3 linked regions of the Homo sapiens genome follow. The protein of the gene in region 1 interacts with the protein of each later gene in a biochemical or structural test. Each region holds a gene or a part of one and is shown in the gene's direction. Other genes may lie near its edges.

The links. The genes of interacting proteins can lie anywhere in the genome.
Region 2: of the proteins of MAPK11 (region 1) and ATF2, one has a biochemical effect on the other in vitro, tested with the Homo sapiens proteins (4 studies listed by BioGRID and IntAct).
Region 3: of the proteins of MAPK11 (region 1) and MAPT, one has a biochemical effect on the other in vitro, tested with the Homo sapiens proteins (2 studies listed by BioGRID).

Annotation. Positions count from the first base shown.
Region 1 is NC_000022.11:50,267,371-50,274,713, reverse strand, and holds the start of MAPK11 (mitogen-activated protein kinase 11), read left to right. Parts: upstream 1-4,333; 5' UTR 4,334-4,421; coding exon 4,422-4,537; intron 4,538-6,764; coding exon 6,765-6,894; intron 6,895-7,086; coding exon 7,087-7,145; intron 7,146-7,231; coding exon 7,232-7,343. UniProt on the Homo sapiens protein: Serine/threonine kinase which acts as an essential component of the MAP kinase signal transduction pathway.
Region 2 is NC_000002.12:175,165,200-175,172,024, reverse strand, and holds the start of ATF2 (cyclic AMP-dependent transcription factor ATF-2), read left to right. Parts: upstream 1-3,821; 5' UTR 3,822-3,975; intron 3,976-4,315; exon of another isoform or gene 4,316-4,392; intron 4,393-6,825. UniProt on the Homo sapiens protein: Transcriptional activator which regulates the transcription of various genes, including those involved in anti-apoptosis, cell growth, and DNA damage response.
Region 3 is NC_000017.11:45,981,534-45,988,557, forward strand, and holds part of MAPT (microtubule-associated protein tau), read left to right. Parts: intron 1-1,332; coding exon 1,333-2,397; intron 2,398-5,506; coding exon 5,507-5,562; intron 5,563-7,024. UniProt on the Homo sapiens protein: Promotes microtubule assembly and stability, and might be involved in the establishment and maintenance of neuronal polarity.

The DNA of each region.
Region 1 (7,343 bases):
TGGGAGGGGTACTGGGGGAGGTGGAGGGGGCTGGGAGGGGTGCTGGGGGGAGGTGGAGGGGGCTGGGAGAGGTGCTGAGGGGAGGTGGGGGGGGTGGGAGGTGGGACTGCTTCTGGTGCCATCTGGTGGCTTCTTTCGTGCAACACATTCTTACCAAATGCCCGCTGCACACCACGCATGCACTGTCCTGAGCGCTAGGAACAGCAGCAACCAGGACGGGCAGGGCTCAGAGCCTCCCCTGTGTGCCAAGAATACAGACAGCCCAGGCAGAGGGCATTCGGTGCTCCAGACACAAAGTGAAGGCCCAGCTTCAAATGTGGCTGGATCCAGGCACACATCCTGAGGTTCTGCTGGTCTGGACTGCTAACCCACTCACGAGGATCCATTCTCAGGCAGCCCCAGCCTGTCTCCCCACCTGGGCACGTCATGGCTGGGGTCTCTTGATGGGCAAGGCCTCCATTGATCGAGTCCCCTTTGGACTGGGGCAGCTCTGTAGGGACCAGCCCCACAGGGTCAGTGGGTCTCTCCGTGTGCGGCGACGAGAGAGTGTAGAAATAAAGACAGAAGACAAAGAGATAAGAGAAAAGGCAGCTGGGCCCAGGAGACCACTACTACCAATGCATGGAGACCGGTAGTGGCCCCGAATGTCGGGCTGCGCTGTTATTTATTGGATACAAGGCAGAAGGGGCAGGGTAAAGAATGTGAGTCATCTCCAATGATAGGTAAGGTCACGTGGGTCATGTGTCCACTGGACAGGAGTCCCTTCCCTGCCTGGCAGCCGAGGCAGAGAGAGAGAGGAGACAGAGAGAAAGACAGCTTACGCCATTATTTCTGCATATCAGGGACTATTAGTATTGTCACTAATTTACTACTGCTATCTAGAAGGCAGAGCCAGGTGTACAGGATGGAACATGAAAGTGGACTAGGAGTGTGACCGCTGAAGCACAGCATCACAGGGAGACGTTTAGGCCTCTGGATAACTGCGGGCAAGCCTGACTGATGTCAGGCCCTCCACAAGAGGTGGAGGAGCAGAGTCTTCTCTAAACTCCCCTGGGGAAAGGGAGACCCCCCCCCCTCTTTCCCGGTCTGCTAAGTAGTGGGTGTTGTTCCTTGACACCTTTTGCTACGGCTGGACCACGGCCCGCCTGGTAACGGGCGTCTTCCCAGACGCTGGCGTCACCGCTAGACCAAGGAACCCTCTGGTGGCCCTGTCCGGGCATAACAGAAGGCTCCCACTCTTGTCTTCTGGTCACACCTCACTATGTCCCCTCAGCTCCTATCTCTGTATGGCCTGGTTTTTCCTAGGCTATGATTATTGAGCAAGGATTATTATAATATTGGAATAAAAAGTAATTGCTACAAACTAATGATTAATGATATTCATATATAATCATATCTAAGATCTATATCTGGTATAACTATTCTTGTTTTATATTTTATTATACTGCAACAGCTCGTGTCCTCTCTCTTGCCTCGGTGCCTGGGTGGCTTGCCGCCCACACAGCTCCATTCAAGCCACGATGAAAAACGGGTGGCCATCTCTCCCCCACAAGAGAAAGGGGTACAAGGCCAACTGACATCCCCTGCTCCAAGGATCCCTGAAATGACATTGGGTTCCCCCCTTACCCAGAGACATGGCTGGTCAGGAGATCAGAGCAAGGGGGTGGACCGAAGGCTTAAGTGCTGAGCGGGAGGTCTCAAGTAGGGAGCTGGGAACCTGGAGGCCTGGCTTCCGTACTAGACCCCTGCAGTCCACCTCTTCCCTGTCCCACTGGGCAGTCAGGAAAGAAGGGAAGGGTCAGTGAGACCCCACACACATGAAACTTGGGGCTGGGGAGAGGCTGCAGGCCCAGCAGTCCAGCATCTGGGTGGGGGCAGGCACCGGGTAGAAGCTGGGCATAGCTGCTGGGGTGCATGCGGTGGGCTGGAGTGGTCAGCTGGCGACAGACGAGGGGTGGCCTGTCCTTCCTGGTGCTTTCCAAGTCCCATTTTCCTCCCAGAGTGGTGGGAGGAGAGGTGGCGGGTAGCTTAACAGCCCAAGGCTACATCCTGCTTGCTTCTTACAGGCAGGACAAGTCCCCTGCTAAATCAGCTCCGCGACCACCATCGCCTGGTCTCCCGGTGAGCAAGGCCAGATTTGCCTTTTAGGAAGTTCACTGACTGCAGGAAGAGGCCAGCTGGGAGGGACCAGCAGGACCAGAGAGGAGCTGTCACAGTGACAGCTCCAGTGAGGAGGGGTGGCCAGGACCAGCGGGGGTGGGGTGGGGGCATGAGCACGGAGAAGGGGTGGCCTGCTGTATTCAGGGGCCACAGCGAATCAGCTGGGTAGGAGAGGCGCCTCTGGCCCAGGGCTTCTCACTCCTGCCCTGCCACCGGCCCTTCCTGGCTCCCCTGCCGCTTCCCCTCTGGGCCTGGGACTGTCCTCCACCGGCGGCTCCCTCCAGGGGGGCTTCCCTTGCCCCCGCCGAGCTCTGAAGGTGCCTCTCCTGGAAGATGGCCTCCAGGCCCTGACGCCACCCGAAACTCCTCAGTGATCACTCCCTTGCAGTGCCACGACCCCACACTGTCCCCAGTAGGCACATGGGCGGGACCTCTAATGCCTGGGCAGGCAGGGGGTTCCCGGGGCAGGTCAGCTCAGTGATGAGAGGGGCCCGTTTCCACCGCCCCCCGCCCCCACCCCCACCCCACACGCCCGCCTGACCTGCTGAGCGGCCGGGGCCTGCAGCGAGGCCGCGAGGATTGCGGGCGGACGCCTGGGGGAAGCCTGACACCTCCCCACCTCCATGTCCCCCACCCTAGGGGCGAGAACGGAGCCGCCCAGTCCACGGGGAGGCGCAGGGGCGGGGCCGGTCGCCATGGGAACCCGACTCCCGCCCCGCCCGGCCGCGGCGCAGACAAAGGCCGCTCCCCTCCCCCGGCGGCCGCGGCCGCGGTTCCCACAGCTCCGGGGCTGCGCTCCGGCCTCCTCCTCCTTTAGCTGAAGCTCCATTAACTCTGCACAAAACCTCGGCCCGCCTCGGCCGGGCCCAGTGAAAGGCGCTCCCGGGCGGGGGCCCTCGGGGAGGCTGCCCGTGTCCTCGCCCCAACCCAGCCCGAGCGAGGAGAGGGGCCATCCCCGGGCCCGCGCCAGGCCCCCAGCCGGATGCCGGCTTCCAATGGGGAAACTGAGGCACGGGGCTTGGTCATGCAAAAGGGGCCGGAGCGGCTGGGACTGAGACCCGTTCCTTCGCCGCGGTCCGCATGGGTCCGGTGGCCAGCACCGTGCTGGCTGTTTTAATTTGGTTGCCGATATATAAAAATCAGATTTGACATTAAAACTCGGATTTTAGTGTTTTAAAAAAGGAGTGTTTTGGGCCACTGGGATCCTGATTTCTCACTTCGCTGGAGGGGGTCGCCCAGCCGCGAAGCCTCCCACCACGGCTCTACCAGGGCGGAGGTCGGTGGCCGGTGTTCCAGGGAGCAATGCTCCGCCGAGCCCCGGTCGCTTTCAAGTGGGAATAAAAGTAGCTGTGCGGCCCCGAGCGCGGCAGAGACGCCGAGTGGGGCGCTGCCCCCGTCACCGCCAAGGCAGCCCCCCGCGCCTGCCCGCCCGCGGGGCTGACTTCAAGGACCCTGCACCCAAAGGCGGCTCCTCGGACCTGGGATAGTCAGGGTGGGCTTCCTAGAAGAGGTGGCCGCTAAGGAGGAGGAAAGGTTCTGGGCAGCAAAAAGGATCCGTTTGGGGCCGCTGCTTGTGGGTAGGAAGGCCCCGGGGTGACGCCGCTGTCCCTGGTCCTGACAGTCCAGCGGTCGCGCCTCTCTCAGAGGGGAGGTCAGGGCGAGCCGGGGCAGGAGGCCTGGAAGGTTCCCGGGGCGCACCGCGGACCAAGGCCTGCAGGTCCTGCGCAAGAAAGCCAGGCCGGCCCTGTCCCAACGCCTTTCGGCTTATTTTCCTATCCAGTGCCGAGTCTTTAGAAGGTGCTATTCATATTTCTGTCTTGAAAAATACTTCCCATGGTTTACCCCTGGCTTCTTCGCTTTTGACGGTTCTCCCTCGTTGGGGAGGGCGCCGCCGGGGTAGGGAAGCCCGGGCCGAGCCCAGACGCGGGCGCAAGTCTGGAGAAGCGCGCGGCCCCCAAGAGGTGAGAGCCGGAGGGAGGTGTCCGCCCTCGGCGCCCCCCCCGGGAAGGGGAGGGCTGGTTTCCGCTCTGCCACCGCCTCCGAGGCGCAGGAAGCAGCGCATTTGTCTCCGGGAACCCCCCCACGCCCCGGCCACCCAGCCCGGGAAATCCGCCCGGGCCTCCCGGCCCCGCCCCGGAGCCCCGCCCCGCCCGCCGCCGCCGCCGCCTCCGCCGCCCTCCGCTCCGCTCGGCTCGGGCTCGGCTCGGGCGCGGGCGCGGGGCGCGGGGCTGGGCCCGGGCGGAGCGGCGGCTGCTCCGGACATGTCGGGCCCTCGCGCCGGCTTCTACCGGCAGGAGCTGAACAAGACCGTGTGGGAGGTGCCGCAGCGGCTGCAGGGGCTGCGCCCGGTGGGCTCCGGCGCCTACGGCTCCGTCTGGTAGGGGCGGGGCAGAAGGGGTGCTGGGTGGGGGCCGGGCCGGGCCGGAGAGCGCGTCCCCTCCTCGCCCGCGCGAGGTTCTCGGCGTGGGGAGGGGCCTCGCCCTGCCTCCGCCCCCGGGCGCCAAGCGGATCTGAGGAATGAATGGGGGGGCGGGGGTGGCGGCGTAAAGAAACTTTCCAAGCAGACGCCGTTACCGGGAGGGAGGGGGGTCCTCCGGCCTCTCCCGATTCGGACTGCTCCCCACCAGGCCTGAGGCCTGGGAGGTCACAGCTGGCGTGAGGGTGGGTCTCACGCGACCGAGCCCCGAGCCACCCTGATGTCCGGGCCCCTAAACGTCTGAGCACCCACCTGAGATTCACTGAGTCGGGTCAGGCAGCCCCCCGGGGTCTAGCGGATGACCCTCCCCCGCCCGGGCTGGGGGCTATTGTCTGAAAAGGGAAGCCCCGCTCCCGGAAGCCAAGATCTCTCCCCCTGGGATGGCCTCAGACTCCCCCTCAGACCACAAACCCCACTTAGGCCCTGGGGCCAGAGGACCTGGCCTGGGGCCCAGGAAGACGACAGAGTCTGGGTGGGGGAGGGGGGTCAACTGGGCCAAGGTCTCTGTTAGACCCGGGTAGCCAGGGCTGGAGGGGCTTAGGGTGAGGTAGTTACCGGGAGTCCTAAGTTTCAGCCTCCATGTTGACTGGGAGGCTGATCATGGGTACAGGCTTTGAGAGGTGCAGCTGAGTCCTCACCATGGCCAATGCCGCTTAGCTGCTGCCCACTGGGGGGTCCTGGTGGGGCGCAAAGGCAGAGGCAGCCAGGGCAGAGCTCTGCCCCAGGCACTTGCAGGTTGGAAGTGGGACCTCTAGGCCCACCAGATTTGGAGCTCAGGAGCCGGCATCAGGGGCCGGGGGTCCCAGGGCAGGCTGTCTTCTGGTGTGGTCCCTAGCCTTCCATCAGAAGCTGTAGGTGGGTCATTCTAGCCATCATGCCAGCACAGATCTGTCTTCCTCTTTGAGACCTGAAGGGCAGGAAGAGGGTCTGGGACGGTGTGGGAGTGGCCATAGGGGACTAGGGTGGGTCATGGCTGGACTCGCCGTCTGGGAGTTGCTGAGAGGTGTCCGGTTCTCTGAGTGAGGCCTGGTCTCCCCCCTTGCACCCCTGGCCCATTTTCTTAGTTCCACTGCCAAGGCTGCGGGCCAGGTGCCAATTCCCTGTCACCTGACCGCACAGATGCAATTGGCCAAAAGAACTTGCTGCCCCACGTGCAGGGCCACTCCCCTCACCACCTCAGGAGCACCTTTCCCTGGTCATAGGCTGGGAGCATGGCTGCCCCAGGCACCTCGACCTGCGCCCATGAGCATCCCAGACCCAGCAGGAGCCGCTCCTGCTCCCCTTGTGTGGGCATGGGGGGTGGCCTCAGCCTCCACTTGCTCTGAGACAGGATCCCAAGAGACAGAAGTGGGAGGGAGAGAAGAAGCAAGTATCAGCCAGAGGGAACAGGCTGTGCAAAGGCCTTTCCTTTAGCAGGGCTGAGGGCAGTGGGACATGGGAGGGTGGGATGAGGGTCACCTGCAAAGGGAGGGTGGGCTCAGGAAGCTGGTGCAGGGTAGAGGGTCTGGACCTCTGGGAAGTGGGGCTGGGCGAAGGGCTGTTCTGTGGGTCCAGCTGACGCCCTCAGCTGTACATCACCTTCTGTCCCGGTTTTGTTCCAAATAATGATGCAATAAACACCTCTGACCAACTTTCCCTCCGTATTTTGAACATTCGGAGGCACCAGGGGTCCAGGGGCTTTGAGGTGGCTCTAGAATCCCCCTCTGTGAGCCTCCTGGGCCCATGGGGTCTATGGGGCAGAGGGAGGCCCGTCTGCTGCAGGTGAATGCCAGTGACTGTTTTCCTGCTGTGTTTTTCCACGCTGGATGGGGCACCTCTCCCCCAGCCTTGCTTTGAATGGGGGCCCCTGGTTGAGCGTGGGAATCAGTGGGGCCAGGGGACAGAGAAGGTCCAGGACCTTGTGGGGTGAACACACGCATGGTGGTCCAGCCCCAGGGGCTCCTTCCCAGCAAGCGCGGAGTGGGTAGGCCCGAGGGTGGGAGGCCGAGCTGGGGCGGCGGGGCCGGGGCAGAAAAGCCCCACGGCCCCATCCCCACGGAGAAGCGGCGAGAGGGACGCCGCCCGGGTCCACGCGCGTGCGGCCGCCCTCGGACCCCTCCCGGCGCCGCCTCACTCGCCCGCCTTCCAGTTCGGCCTACGACGCCCGGCTGCGCCAGAAGGTGGCGGTGAAGAAGCTGTCGCGCCCCTTCCAGTCGCTGATCCACGCGCGCAGAACGTACCGGGAGCTGCGGCTGCTCAAGCACCTGAAGCACGAGAACGTGAGCCGGGGGAGGGCCGTGGGGGGAGGGCGCGTGCGGGGGCGGGGCCGCGGCGCAGCCAATAGGCGGGCGAGCCCTGGCGATGGGGGCGGGGACACAGGGGGCGCGGCCTGGCACTGGGGGCGTGGCCCGGGGGGAGCTGAACGACAGCCGGGGGTTCGTCGCCCGGCCCTGACGCCCCCCGCCACCTAGGTCATCGGGCTTCTGGACGTCTTCACGCCGGCCACGTCCATCGAGGACTTCAGCGAAGTGTGAGCGGCGGGGCGGGCGAGGCAGCGGGGAGCGCGTTCGCGGTGGGGCGGTGGGGCCCTGTCCTGACCCCCTGACCCCGCCCCAGGTACTTGGTGACCACCCTGATGGGCGCCGACCTGAACAACATCGTCAAGTGCCAGGCGCTGAGCGACGAGCACGTTCAATTCCTGGTTTACCAGCTGCTGCGCGGGCTGAAG
Region 2 (6,825 bases), on another chromosome or scaffold:
GTCTCCTGAAAAAACTTTGTCTTATTTATAGTTGTCACCTCAGAGCCAGAAACAGTGCCTGGAATGTTCATGCTCAATTAATATAGATGCTTTATGAGTAAGGAGAGCATTAGGTTGATGCTTGACCTCATTGGCCATAGTTGACCTATGAGGCTGTATCCAAGGTAAGAAGGTAACTGAAACGAGCAGGATGGTAGTCTAAGGACCCAGGAGGATCCATATGCTGACAGACCTCCCTTGATTTCTAGGATACAGATCACATGGCTTTGGTGTTACGTGGGCCTCAGGTTGACAAATAGACTAGTTATGGGAAGCTATGAAAGGTAGGAGTGATCCTATTTTTATTAATAATATTGTATAAAAAGAATATAATGATGGCAATCCCTCTTTCTGGTGAGTCAGATGAGAGAGAGAGGTGGCATTAGCATCAAGAATGAAAACAAGGCCCTTAAATTCCATTCTCCCTCTCTCTGGGCTGGTTTTGTTGAAGGTAGTATAAGCTAACTGGTATGATGTGAAGATAAACATAGCCCTTTTTCCCCATAATGCCACACCCCATTAATTATAAATTCTTTTGGGAAACCCAAGATTTGGGTTGGAGGGTAGACATCCCTGCACTTAAAATGTCCATGATGAGGACAAGTGCTGAGAGGTAACTTTAACATAGGCCATTTCAGCAATGTGCAGGAAGACCCTGAGCTGGCAGAGAGAGGAAAAGATCTGCCATGAGATAGAAGCTACCAAAATGTCTGTACAACGTCTAGGGCCACATTATCCTATTTCATTTCTCAGATATCAGTGGGGTAATCATGTCCTGCGTCTCCCACCCCTTTCACATCTCACACACACACACACACACCACACACACCCCTACCTTGATCCCACTGATAAAATCCCAGCTAATCCACTGTACTGGGCTGCATCCTGAGAATATCATGAAAATGTAGAGGCTCTTTCCCTAAGCCTAGGATTAGTTGTACCAAGTAGACATAAGGGGTGCCCTGTAGTCTTCTATGTTTTGGTTAGCTGCAGACAAACAGAAACTATGTTCTGAAAATCAATTATTAGTGAGAGAGAGAAGGAGAGGAAGTTGAAAGGGAAGATGGAGAGAGATATGGTTTGGCTGTGTCCCCACCCCAAATCTCATCTTGAAGTGTAGTTCCCATAATCCCCACATGTCATGGGAGGGACCAGGTGGAGATAATTGAATCATTGGGGTGGTTTCCCCATCCTGTTCTCATGATAGTGAGTTAGTTCTCAGAGATCTGATGGTTTTATAATGGGCTTCTCCTTTTGCTGGGCACTCATTCATGTGAAGAAGGACATGTTTGCTTCCCCTTCCGCCATGATTGTGAGTTTCCTGAAGCCTCCCCAGCCATGCTGAACTGTGAATCAATTAAACCTCTTTCCTTTATAAATTACCCAGTCTCGGGTATATCTTTATTAGCAGCGTGAGAACAGATATATATATACACACACACACACACACACACACATATATACACATATATATACATACATACATACACACACACACACACACACGTTTTAGAATTTTTGTGAGCAGTTTTAACAGATTATGGATTAGCAGCCCTATCATACTAAGGTGGAAATACCACATTGTGTGGCATTTGTAAGATTTTGAGGGCACTTAGAGACCATCATTGTTTCTTGTGATATTTATTAACATTTTCATGACAGAAATGCATTTTCTTCAAATAGCCTCATTTTGTATCTAAGGAATATTAGTTTTATTTAGCAGTTATGCTGGGTTCTTAAAGGAGATTCACTAGACCCTCACTAATTCTCTTAGAACTAAGTTGGGTAGATGCATCATGGAACAAGACAGGCAAAGAAGAGGTCTACAAGAAGTTTCCTGCGTTTGTAAAGAGAAGACTGTAAAGAATTTTAGGACTCTTGGGGATATTGAGGAATGCAAAAGTGAGAACAAAGATGGAAAAGGGTGGCATTTTATGAGGATATGAATAAGTAGTGAGACAAGTTCATGGAATCAGACCTGAATATGGTAACTACATTCATTTTGACAATGCTGAATGTTTTCCCCACTTGTAGAAAAACTATAGTAAACAAACTGCTGTGGAACTAGAAATATGTGGATAAAGTGAGACCCTTTGTTAAATGCCGGGCTGCCAAAATGCATATATAACAGATCGGCATAGTTTCCACCTGTTTCCTGCGCCTATCTTATTTTTTTTTCTCACTTTAGGTATACCCTCTCTTTAGAAAATTAGCTAAAACTGAATTATCAAAACAGATCAGAGTACTGTTCATATCACTAAACAGTTCTTCTCTTGTCTAAAAAGAACTGAAAGACTTTCTTTAAAATAATGTGTTTCTCGAATGCATCATGTAGATAACTAACTGCTTGACAACAGACTGGAGAAGTAGCAATGAGAAATTTAAAACCAAAGCTACTGCCCAATTGAATCAACACTGGAAAAAATTTCAAATGGAAAAACAATTTTTTTAAAAAAATCTATTCTAATTGACCCAAACTTCTTTTGAAATGTCGTAACATTTGCAGTTCTTTTTCTCACATTAGTTGTTTTGGGAGATGGAGAGAGAAGCATCTATTTAATCAATGCGTTCTAGACCTAACAATTGTGATGTCAATCAAACATTTTGTCCACCATTTCCATCATGAGTAATCTGAACTGTGAGGTTTTGCTGACATAATTAGTGTTACACTACAATGGCACTACTACATTACTGTTACTATATGGGGACGGTACTTTCATTTTAAGTAGGAAAGTGTTAATAATTTGGCTTAATGTTTCTTAACTAAAATTAGTTTTAAAAGAGGACTGAGTTGGCTTATACACATGTATGCGGTCCAGAGACCTACCTGTTAAAATGTCAATGCCATTACAATTTCACTTTTATGCCAGATATCATTCTTGAACTTCAGGCTCATTAACTCTCATACTATCCCCCAAAACCTTTCAACAATTTTGAGAGTGTATTTTATGTTAATATATAAACTAGTTCATAATTTTGTTCCAGACTAGAAATCAGTATTTAATAAATGGAAAAAATAAGACACTGAAAATCTTTTATTGAATAATGTAAATTCTCACAGAGGCCTCTGATCATACTTTTCAACTTGTGCCTATTTATTGAATAACCAACATCCTTACAGTTAATATTAAAATCTTTAAGTTGTGTGGGGTTTTTTGGAGGGGAGGGATGGGCAATTACCAGCAAACTCCGCCTCCCCCAAACCTCACCTAACCCGAAGCTCCCCGCCTCAGGCTCCCGGGGAGCCAAGGGGTGGGCTGAGGAACGCAGCCTACTTTTACCCACCTCCCTACCTAGTGCTGGGAAGTGACGGAAACGGAGACACCCGGCTCCTGGGGCTGGGCTCGGAGGACCCATCCTGCTTTCCCTCTAGCAGCCTTTCCGGAGCTCACCACCTTTCCTCCCCTCACACCGCCAAAGCCCTGCCTAGCCCTTCACCGCCGCCTGCACCCGCGCCCTCCTCCAGCCGACAGCCAATCACAGTCTTCCACAGCTCCGGGTTTACAGAAGTAACGCTCCTTGGGCCCTCTGGTCCCGCCCCCTCCAGAACTGCTTCCCGCCCTTCGGGCTCCTTGTCCAATCATGAGCGCCCGAGTGCTCTTTGATGCCCGTCCCCTCTACCCGCCCTGCCGAAGACCCGCCTTCTTCTCCTTAAGCCTGACGGAATCACCTGACTCGGAGGCGCTCCCTCAGAAGGAAGGCAAGAAGGGGCGTGTGGGTGAAGGGGAGGGGCGCCAGAAGGAAGGTGGGGATGCCGGGAGCGGGGCGAGCGGGCGGGGGTTGTCAGTCCGATCTCGCGAGAGAGGACGGAAGCCTGTGGGAGCCCGTGGCCTTTAAAGTGCCGTTCAGCCTTTTCCTCCAGGGGTGCTTTGTAAACACGGCTGTGCTCAGGGCTCGCGGGTGACCGAAAGGATCATGAACTAGTGACCTGGAAAGGTGAGTAACGATGGGCAGAGGTCAGCAGGGCTGGAGACTGTAGGGATACGGAGAAAGAAGGCGCTAACATGGCGACGTCGCTCAGCACAGTCCCCACCCCCCGTTTCCCATCACCTCGGGTGCTCCTGACGTGCTCCTTAGCCCTTGGGGCGATTGTGGCTGTGCTGCCACCTCGGCGGCCCGCGCGGTGTGGGCTTTGGGAACCTGACTGGCTGGGCCGGACCGTTAGGTAACCAGCGTTCGTTGTTCCGGCCCCTCCCTCTCGCGCGCTTTCCTAAGGCAGAGGAAAAAGGAATAACGGCTCCCTCTTAGACCCCTCCCTCCGAATTATCTTCACCCTACTTGGGTCAGTTCAGAGGTCCTCGGGGCGCGCGTCGAGTCAGCCGTGTGCGCAGGGAGACCTCTCCCACCCACAGTCCTTGGGTTGGGCGGGGAGAGGGCCCACTCTGGTCTCCCCACCCAGTATTCAAGCGATTGAGGACCGTGTATTGGTGATGGTGGCGGGGAGGAGGATCGGGAGGCGCGGCTGAAAATAGAATCAGGGTCCCTGGCTGCGGTGCAGCTTGAAGGAAAGAATGGTGTGGAGAACCTAGGAGCTGGAAGTCTCGGCCTTTTCCGTCCTTTCCGCCACCCTCACAATCCCGCTACCCCCAGCTTTTTCCCGGTGGGGCGGGGCTTAGGTGTGGGTGCAGACTGATTCTGGTATTTTCCCTTATTTTTTTTTTTTTAAATCTCTGGGTGGACAGCAGAGCGTATGTAAAGAAATAATTTGCTTTTCATCAATGCCCTAGGGACCAGGGCCGAAAGGGAGTGTGTGTACGTGTTTTCTATGTTCGCTCGTTTAACCGAACCTAGGAGGAAAAAGAGAGGAGGAGCTGGGAACTATTTTTGTGCCCCTAGGTAGTATAAAATTGGCTTTCTTTAATGGAGAGTCTTAAAACTGGTGAGGCCAAGAGCAAAACTACTGTGAATATCATGGAGTAAAAGAGATTACTCCTGATGGACCTTAGGCATCAGAAATTTTAGTGAAAGAAATGTTTCTCTTAAAATTCAACACCTATTTTAAATAGTGATGTAAAGCATTTCTTTACATGTACCTTCAGGTTTTCTAATGCTTTCCTGGCTATTATTTAACTGGTACTAAGGGATTGACTAATCCCTAAATTATAATGTGAAAGTTTAAATTTCTTAGAGGTTTTAAATTATGGAGACGGTCACAATGCATGCATTTAAGATATACATTTAAAATCAGAACAAAAACTGACTTTCTTTGAGCACACTTTTTGTCCTATTTGAAGAAACATGACCACTGGCGTTATCATTGTGAGTAACAGCCGTTCTGATCTTTAAATAGCCATATAGCTTTGGTCTCTTGAATCAAAATTATGAAGGTAAAGCTTTATTTATAAAAGCTTGTTAAAAAGTCAAACCTACAGGTTTAAGTGTCTTAAAGTACAAACACAGAAGCAGTTTTATCATGTATTAATTTTTTTTTCCTTACTTGAGGAATCCACCGTAAAAACTTTGTTTCAAAAATGTTAGGAACATCCTTGTAAAATACGTTTTAAATATACAGATTCCCCTCTGCAGATTAAGAAAGTTCATGGATCTTTAAGGCCATCAGTAGTTGCGTAATAGTTAAGAATCCTCGTCTTTGTAAAATAATTTCTAGGAATCTTCCAAATTTACCGTGATGTGTAAAAGAGTTTCTGAGAATCTTCCAAATTTACCATGATGTGTATGTTGCCTTCCTAAGACGTTTAATCTTGCTTTGAGAGAATGCTACTGCCATTAAGTTTTAAGAACTGATTTAAAATGTAATATCGTGGAAATTTAGAACTTAGTTGTTATGTATTTTAATTGTCAGGAAGGAGCTTTCAGGGACTTTTTTTTGTATGTGTAGTGTACATAATACCTTCTATAGCTCCGGGTGCATTTCCTGAAAATCCTTTTTAAAATATCTTATCCGAATGTTTATTTCGTATTTGGGGCACTGTATTTTTATTAGTTAAATATGTAACCCAGGAATTCCTGCACTTTTTTCTTTGGCGTTTTTTGTTTTTAAGCTAAGATAATAGTAGAGGCTGGGCGTGCGCGGTGGCTCATGCCTGTAATGCCAGCACTTCGTGAGGCCGAGTGGGGCGGATCATGAGGTGAGGAGATCGAGACCATCCTAGCTAACACGGTGAAACCCCGTCTCTACTAAAAATACCAAAAATTAGCTGGGTGTGTTGGCTCCTGTAGTCCCACCTACTCGAGAGGCTGAGGCGGAGAATCTGTTGAACCTGGGAGGCGGAGGTTGCAGTGAGCCGAGATGGCGCCACTGCACTCCAACCTGGGCGACACAGCGAGACTCCGTCTCAAATAAATAAATAGTAGAAATGGTTGTCAGCATTTTAACAAATAGTGGGGTTGGGGTGGTCTTTATTGGTATTCAGGATCTGAAAGCTCTATGACTATGGTAGAAAAATATGCCATACATCAAACATCTATCTGTAAGTAGCATTAACTCTTCAAAAAATAATGTACATTTTTTCTACCCAAATTTTTGTATTTTGGAAAACTTCGGTTTTAATGATACATACGTTCTTGTCTGGTAAATTGTTAGATCGTGTTAGATCAGGTAAACAATCTCACCAATGTGTGCTTTTTCTACTAATTTTGTCTAAAGGCTCTTCCTTCCAATATGAAATATACCTATAAGTAGGCATTTCTTTCTCTTTTTTATTCTTACTAAAATGTCATTGGAGAATATAAAGTAGTTGAAGTCTCCCTTATGAAAACCAGATTTTCATCAGAACCTCTCGTTAAAAATTCAGTGAATAGCAATAATTAATATTCAACTGATTT
Region 3 (7,024 bases), on another chromosome or scaffold:
CCTCACCTGTGCCAAGGGCTTGTCTGTGGTCAGTGACCTGGATAGATCTGAATGGGGCTTCTTTTTCGAGGAGTCTTATGGCAGGTCTCTCAGTAAAGACTCCATTCTTGATGATCACACATTTTGGATTTTCCAAATCTGTCAGAGAATGGGCTTGAGGCGGGGTTTGTGGGCACTAGTTTCACTGGTTTCATTTACCAAAAAGGGGAGCAGAAGTCAAGTATGGTGGCTCATCCCTGTAATCCCAGAGGCAAGAGAATTGCTTGAGCCCAGGAGTTCGAGACCAGCCTGAGCAACATAAGGAGACCCCGTCTCCACAAAAATGAAAAATAACATTTTAGTCAGACGTGGTGGCATGCATCTGTGGTCCCAGCTGCTTGGGAGGGTGAGATGGGAGGGTTGTTTGAGCCCTGGAGTTAAAGTTGCAATGAGCTGTGATTGCACCACTGCACTCTAGCCTGGGTGACAGAACGAGACCCTGTCTCAAAAAAAAAAAAAAAGAAAGAAAGAAAGGAAAAAAAAAACTCATGCCTGTAATCCCAGCACTTTGGGGACCGGGGTGGGCAGATCACGAGGTCAGGAGATCAAGACTATCCTGGCCAACATGGTGAAACCCCGTTTCTACTAAAAATACAAAAATTAGCCAGGTGTGGTGGCACGTGCCTGTAATCCCAGTTACTCGGGAGGCTGAGGCAGGAGAATCGCTTGAACCAGGGAGTCAGAGGTTGCAGTGAGCTGAGATCGTGCCACTGTACTCCAGCCTGGGCGACAGAGTGAGACTCTGTCTCAAACCAAAAAAAAGGGGTGGGGGGCGGGGGCAGGAGAACAGTGAGAGGTAGGGAGAGGAAAGGGGATTCTCGCTACACCCAAACCAGATACCATCTAGAGGCTAGAATCTTTGGGAGGCTCAAATTCCCTAGAAAGCAGGAGAAGCTTCTGTAGCCCTCCCGCTTTCCCAGTAGATTAAGCCCAGGGCGGCTCCAGATGTGTGACATGCTCTGTGCCCAACCAGAGCCCATCATAGGCAGAGGAATAACACCCACACCAGAAGGGCCCTCGGAGGTCACCACGTCCAAGAACCCTCTTTACAGATGAGGAAACTGAGGCCCAGAGAGGGGAGAGCCACCTAGCGAGCTGGTGGCGGCTAGACCAGGAGAGCTGTCATTCCAAGCAAGCAAAGGCAACGAGACGAGCCCAGAGCTGTGCTCCCATCTCTTTGTTAGGGGGCCTGGGATGCCCTCTCAGTGTCATTTTGTCCAGGATGATGCTCCCTCTCTTAAGCGATTAATGCGCCCTTGCTAACCTTTTGCTATCGCTGCCTCTTCAAACCAGAGGAGTTGAGAGTTCCGGGCCGGCAGAGGAAGGCGCCTGAAAGGCCCCTGGCCAATGAGATTAGCGCCCACGTCCAGCCTGGACCCTGCGGAGAGGCCTCTGGGGTCTCTGGGCCGTGCCTCGGGGAGAAAGAGCCAGAAGCTCCCGTCCCGCTGACCGCGAGCCTTCCTCAGCACCGTCCCGTTTGCCCAGCGCCTCCTCCAACAGGAGGCCCTCAGGAGCCCTCCCTGGAGTGGGGACAAAAAGGCGGGGACTGGGCCGAGAAGGGTCCGGCCTTTCCGAAGCCCGCCACCACTGCGTATCTCCACACAGAGCCTGAAAGTGGTAAGGTGGTCCAGGAAGGCTTCCTCCGAGAGCCAGGCCCCCCAGGTCTGAGCCACCAGCTCATGTCCGGCATGCCTGGGGCTCCCCTCCTGCCTGAGGGCCCCAGAGAGGCCACACGCCAACCTTCGGGGACAGGACCTGAGGACACAGAGGGCGGCCGCCACGCCCCTGAGCTGCTCAAGCACCAGCTTCTAGGAGACCTGCACCAGGAGGGGCCGCCGCTGAAGGGGGCAGGGGGCAAAGAGAGGCCGGGGAGCAAGGAGGAGGTGGATGAAGACCGCGACGTCGATGAGTCCTCCCCCCAAGACTCCCCTCCCTCCAAGGCCTCCCCAGCCCAAGATGGGCGGCCTCCCCAGACAGCCGCCAGAGAAGCCACCAGCATCCCAGGCTTCCCAGCGGAGGGTGCCATCCCCCTCCCTGTGGATTTCCTCTCCAAAGTTTCCACAGAGATCCCAGCCTCAGAGCCCGACGGGCCCAGTGTAGGGCGGGCCAAAGGGCAGGATGCCCCCCTGGAGTTCACGTTTCACGTGGAAATCACACCCAACGTGCAGAAGGAGCAGGCGCACTCGGAGGAGCATTTGGGAAGGGCTGCATTTCCAGGGGCCCCTGGAGAGGGGCCAGAGGCCCGGGGCCCCTCTTTGGGAGAGGACACAAAAGAGGCTGACCTTCCAGAGCCCTCTGAAAAGCAGCCTGCTGCTGCTCCGCGGGGGAAGCCCGTCAGCCGGGTCCCTCAACTCAAAGGTCTGTGTCTTGAGCTTCTTCGCTCCTTCCCTGGGGACCTCCCAGGCCTCCCAGGCTGCGGGCACTGCCACTGAGCTTCCAGGCCTCCCGACTCCTGCTGCTTCTGACGTTCCTAGGACGCCACTAAATCGACACCTGGGTGCAGCTGCTCCACTCCCTCGGCCTCCTCCCGTGCTCAGGCTGTGGCCGCACGCGCCCCTCACGCTTGCCCGCCACTCTGCATGTCACCAGCACCCCCGCTCCGTGCTACCCACCTTGTTTGACTCTCTGGCCACTTGATTTGTCCACAACGGCCCATCAGCCCACAGGAGGTTTGGTGGGTGCCTTCCACCGACAGGATGACGGGTGCCCTCATGGTGTCTAGAACTCTCCAACCCTCCCATGTAGGCATAAGCAGCCCCACTTTGCAGATGAGGAAACGGAGGCTCAGAGAAGTACAGTAACTTGCCGAAGGCCAATGAGTAGTAAGTGACAGAGCCAGGTTTGGGATCCAGGTAGGTTGTCTCTGAAAGACACGCCTGTCCTGCATCCCACAACGCCTCCCAGGAGGTGCTGGAGTGTGGACGCCTAACACAGAGATGTGCAGGGCACACACAGCAGGTGACACACACAGCATCCAGAGGTGGCCCAGAGCTCATGCTGTGCCTTTGGCCCAGTGCCCTGCCCCCACCCACTCTGCCTTGTGGCAGGAAGACAAGGAGCAGACACAAGATCTCCCTGGTCCACATGCCACCACCTCCCTCTGCAGAGGACAAGGGGATCCTCATGCTGGCATTGGAGGGGGTTGAGCAGGGCCCACCTTGAGCCCTCAGGAGCACGACCACAGCAGCCCTGCAGGGAGGGATTGGTGGGAGGAGAGTCCCAAGTATCAGGGAGAGGAGAGTTGGTGTCCCACAGGAGACCTCAGAGCCACAAGGCGAGCTTGTTCATAAATTTGGGACCCTTAGCATTTCACAGTTATTTGCAGAGCCCAGAAATGGATGTTACTGAAGCTCACAGTTGCAAGCATCTGTTAAATTTTTATTAGATTTTACTTTTAGGGAAAACTTTGAAATGCTATAAAGAAGCCTGTGTTTAAAAGTTAAGACAGAGGCTGGGGGCGATGGCTCACGCCTGTAATCTCAGCACTTTGGGAGGCCAAGGCAGGTGGATCATTTGAGGTTAGGAGTTCGAGACCAGCCTGGCCAACATGGTGAGACCCTGTCTCTACTAAAATTACAAAAAATTAGCTGGGCGTGGTGGCGGGCACCTGTAGTCCCAGCTACTGGGGAGGCTGAAGCAGGATAAGTGCTTGAACCCAGGAGGCAGAGGTTACAGTGAGCCAAGATCACACCACTGTACCCTAAGCCTGGGCGACAGAGTGAGACTCTGTCTCAAAAAATAAAATAAAATAAAGTTAAGAGAGAAAAAAATATATCCTATATCCTTTGTTAAATTCCAAAACAGTAGGGGACAAATAACTGACTTGACAGGTTACTACAATATTTCCTGAAATGATGTTTTCTTGAATACTGGCCTACTAGAGGTTCATAGGTGTGTTTGGATTAAAAAAGAGTTCCATGGCCCAGTGACTGGGGGAAAAAAATAAAAGACTAAAGTAAGTTAAACAGGCTTTTCTGCTGCAGGACTTGTCAGAGCCTTTAATGTACTAATGGCCATTGTGACCCTCTGAGAAGGTCACAGAGTGGGTTTCCCAAACTTACTTGATTCTACCTGCTAACATTTCCTGGAGGAAGTTTGGGAAATGCCGATTTAGCAGATTCTTTTGTTGTGCCGTGGATGGTGCTGGTTGATGTGGGCAAAACAAAGAACACGTGAGTCAGATCCGCCTGGGGCTCTTACTAAAGTGCAGGTTCCCAGGTGCCACTTTAGGCTTACAGACCCAGTTGTGGGGTAAGCCTGGGAGTCTTTTAGCAGGTGATTCTGCCACATAGTATAGTTGGAAAACCTCTGGGCATACTCATTGCTGGTCCCTCTAGAAATCCAGGTGACAATAGCCAATGAGAAGCTCCAAGAGACCCAGTTGTCCATGGGGTAGAGGGAATGTGATATTGAAACCAAAGAAGAAAATCTATGATCAGTTTTCAGCAGTGACTGTCAAGAGAAGGAGAAGGGTGAGTTAGCGCTGATGCTGGCTGACAGGTCAGCGGGTTGGTTTCACCAAGGAGTGTGATGAAGGCTGATGTTGTCTGTGGGAATGTATGATGGTAACTGGTTTGTAGCTAATTTGGGGAAGCAGTGAGAATTCGTGCCCTTTGAAGACCAGTAAGTGGCAAGAAACCCACCAGGCCTGGCTCAGGGCTGGGCTGGGCTTGGCTCGTCTCAGAGCAGCTGGGGCTGGTGGCCAAAGCCACCATTAGTGAGGGGCAGGCCCTGGGGGTACAACCAGCAACTAGGGGACAAAGACAACCCTGCCAGCCTCTCCTATTCTGGAGGCGTGTGACCAGAAATGGAGATGGGTTGGTCAGCATAAGATGGCCAGGAAGGTGGAAATCAGGACTGCTGGCAATCTAGCCACATGGGCAGGGGAGCCGGGTGGTTCCAGGCAGTTTCCAAGGCCAAGAGGGTGAGCAGGCACCTCACAGGGAATCAGGGCCAAGCCTGGCTGCAGTGTGGAGACAATGCACCCACCCCCATCCTTGGATCTTGCAGGAGGCTGGGTCCTCACTGAGCTACCAACATCCATGGCCCTGAGGCTTTTAAAACACCCATCCATGGAGTGGGGCTGGTCCCAGTGGGGTGAGGCTGACCCTGGCAGAAACAGGGCAGGAGCCTGTGGGTTAGGGAGACTGCACCTTCCTTAGATAGCCTCCATGCCATCATGTCCCCGTGACAGTTTCTGCTGCGTCCCCTCTGCATGGTCCCACCCTCGGCCAGCCTGCTGCCCCCTCTTGCCAGGTTGCGCTAATCAGTGACCCCAGTGTGCTGTGTTGATACTAACAATGCGAGGCCTAGCAGATTCAAGGGAAAAGAGAACCAACTGGGTTTCCACCAGACCCAACTAAACAAACATGGACCTATCCCAGAGAAATCCAGCTTCACCACAGCTGGCTTTCTGTGAACAGTGAAAATGGAGTGTGACAAGCATTCTTATTTTATATTTTATCAGCTCGCATGGTCAGTAAAAGCAAAGACGGGACTGGAAGCGATGACAAAAAAGCCAAGGTAAGCTGACGATGCCACGGAGCTCTGCAGCTGGTCAAGTTTACAGAGAAGCTGTGCTTTATGTCTGATTCATTCTCATATATAATGTGGGGAGTATTTGTCACTAAAGTACAGCTGTCATTTAAAGTGCTTTGTATTTTGGGGCAGGCTTTTAAAAAGTCCAGCATTTATTAGTTTTGATACTTACCCCAGGGAAGAGCAGTTGGCAGGTTCATGAAGTCATGCTCCTAATTCCAGCTTTCTTAGTGTACTTTCAGTGAGACCCTGACAGTAAATGAAGGTGTGTTTGAAAACCAAACCCAGGACAGTAAATGAAGGTGTGTTTGAAAACCAGCCCTAGGACAGTAAATGAAGCCATCTTCTCACTGCATAAACTGCACCCAGATCTTCGCCCATCCTTCTCAGTATTTCACTTCACCCATTGTTTACTGTCTCAATGACTGGGGAAATGTCTGGGGAAATGCTCCCGTAATTGCACAGTGGCGTTTTTCCTGGAAAATCCCACCATGGCTCTAGATAAGACCTATTTTTCTTAAAGGTATCTAAAATTTCCAGCATAAATTCTGTCTGAAACACCTGAATTTTAATCAGTACTGGAGCCCGGAGGGCATCTCCAGTTGCCACATAGCTCTGAGCATTCAGTGGTGTGTTGAGGGCTGCTCCCGGAAGTGCCTGCAGAGTCAGGGCTCCCCAGCCTCATCTAGTGAGGCAGTGGAAGGGCCTGTGGGGATTTGGAGAGCTGGCCTGGGTCTCTGAAGTGATAGTGACAGCTGCTTGTCAATCACGGTGCACATTTAGTGCTGGGGGCAGGGGGCAGGGAATACCAGCCTCATGCATGCATGCATTCATTTGTTCCTTCCTTCATTCATTCATTCAGTACACATGGGTACAACATCCCTGCCCTGGAGTTGCCCAGAGTCTAGGGAGGGGAAAGATCTATTACCCTGGGCCTCGGCCAGCTGGGGAGTGCTGCTGGTGGAGAGGGGCCGTGTGCAGCGAGGGAAGGAGGAGTCGTCAATACCCCCACCCCAGCTTTGCTTTCTTGTCATCAGCCCCAGGGCCCCAGCCTGTGTCCCTCCTCTCCCATTGCTACTTCATCTCCTGGGTCCTCCTTACCAAGCCTGACCACACAGAGGGCCTTGGCCGCTTCCATGGGGAATTGGAAAGCAATAAGATAGCATCCCCTAGAAGCCCAGTGAAGTCTGGGACAGGACCCTTCTCTGAGCTCTGACTTGCTCTTGGAAACACTTCGAGGCTTAGCCTCCCCACTTTGTTTCCCGAGAGTGTGACCTGTTCCCCTCCAAACACCCCCTTCTCCTCCAGGGCCATGCCCACCCGTCAAAATCCCCCACGGGCAGGACGAACTGTGGGTGTCAGTCACCATCTATCCTGCATCCTGGTTCCAGGGCCCCCCCCAGCCCCGCCTCCATAGGGACAGGCGTGCAGACACCCGTCCCTGGCT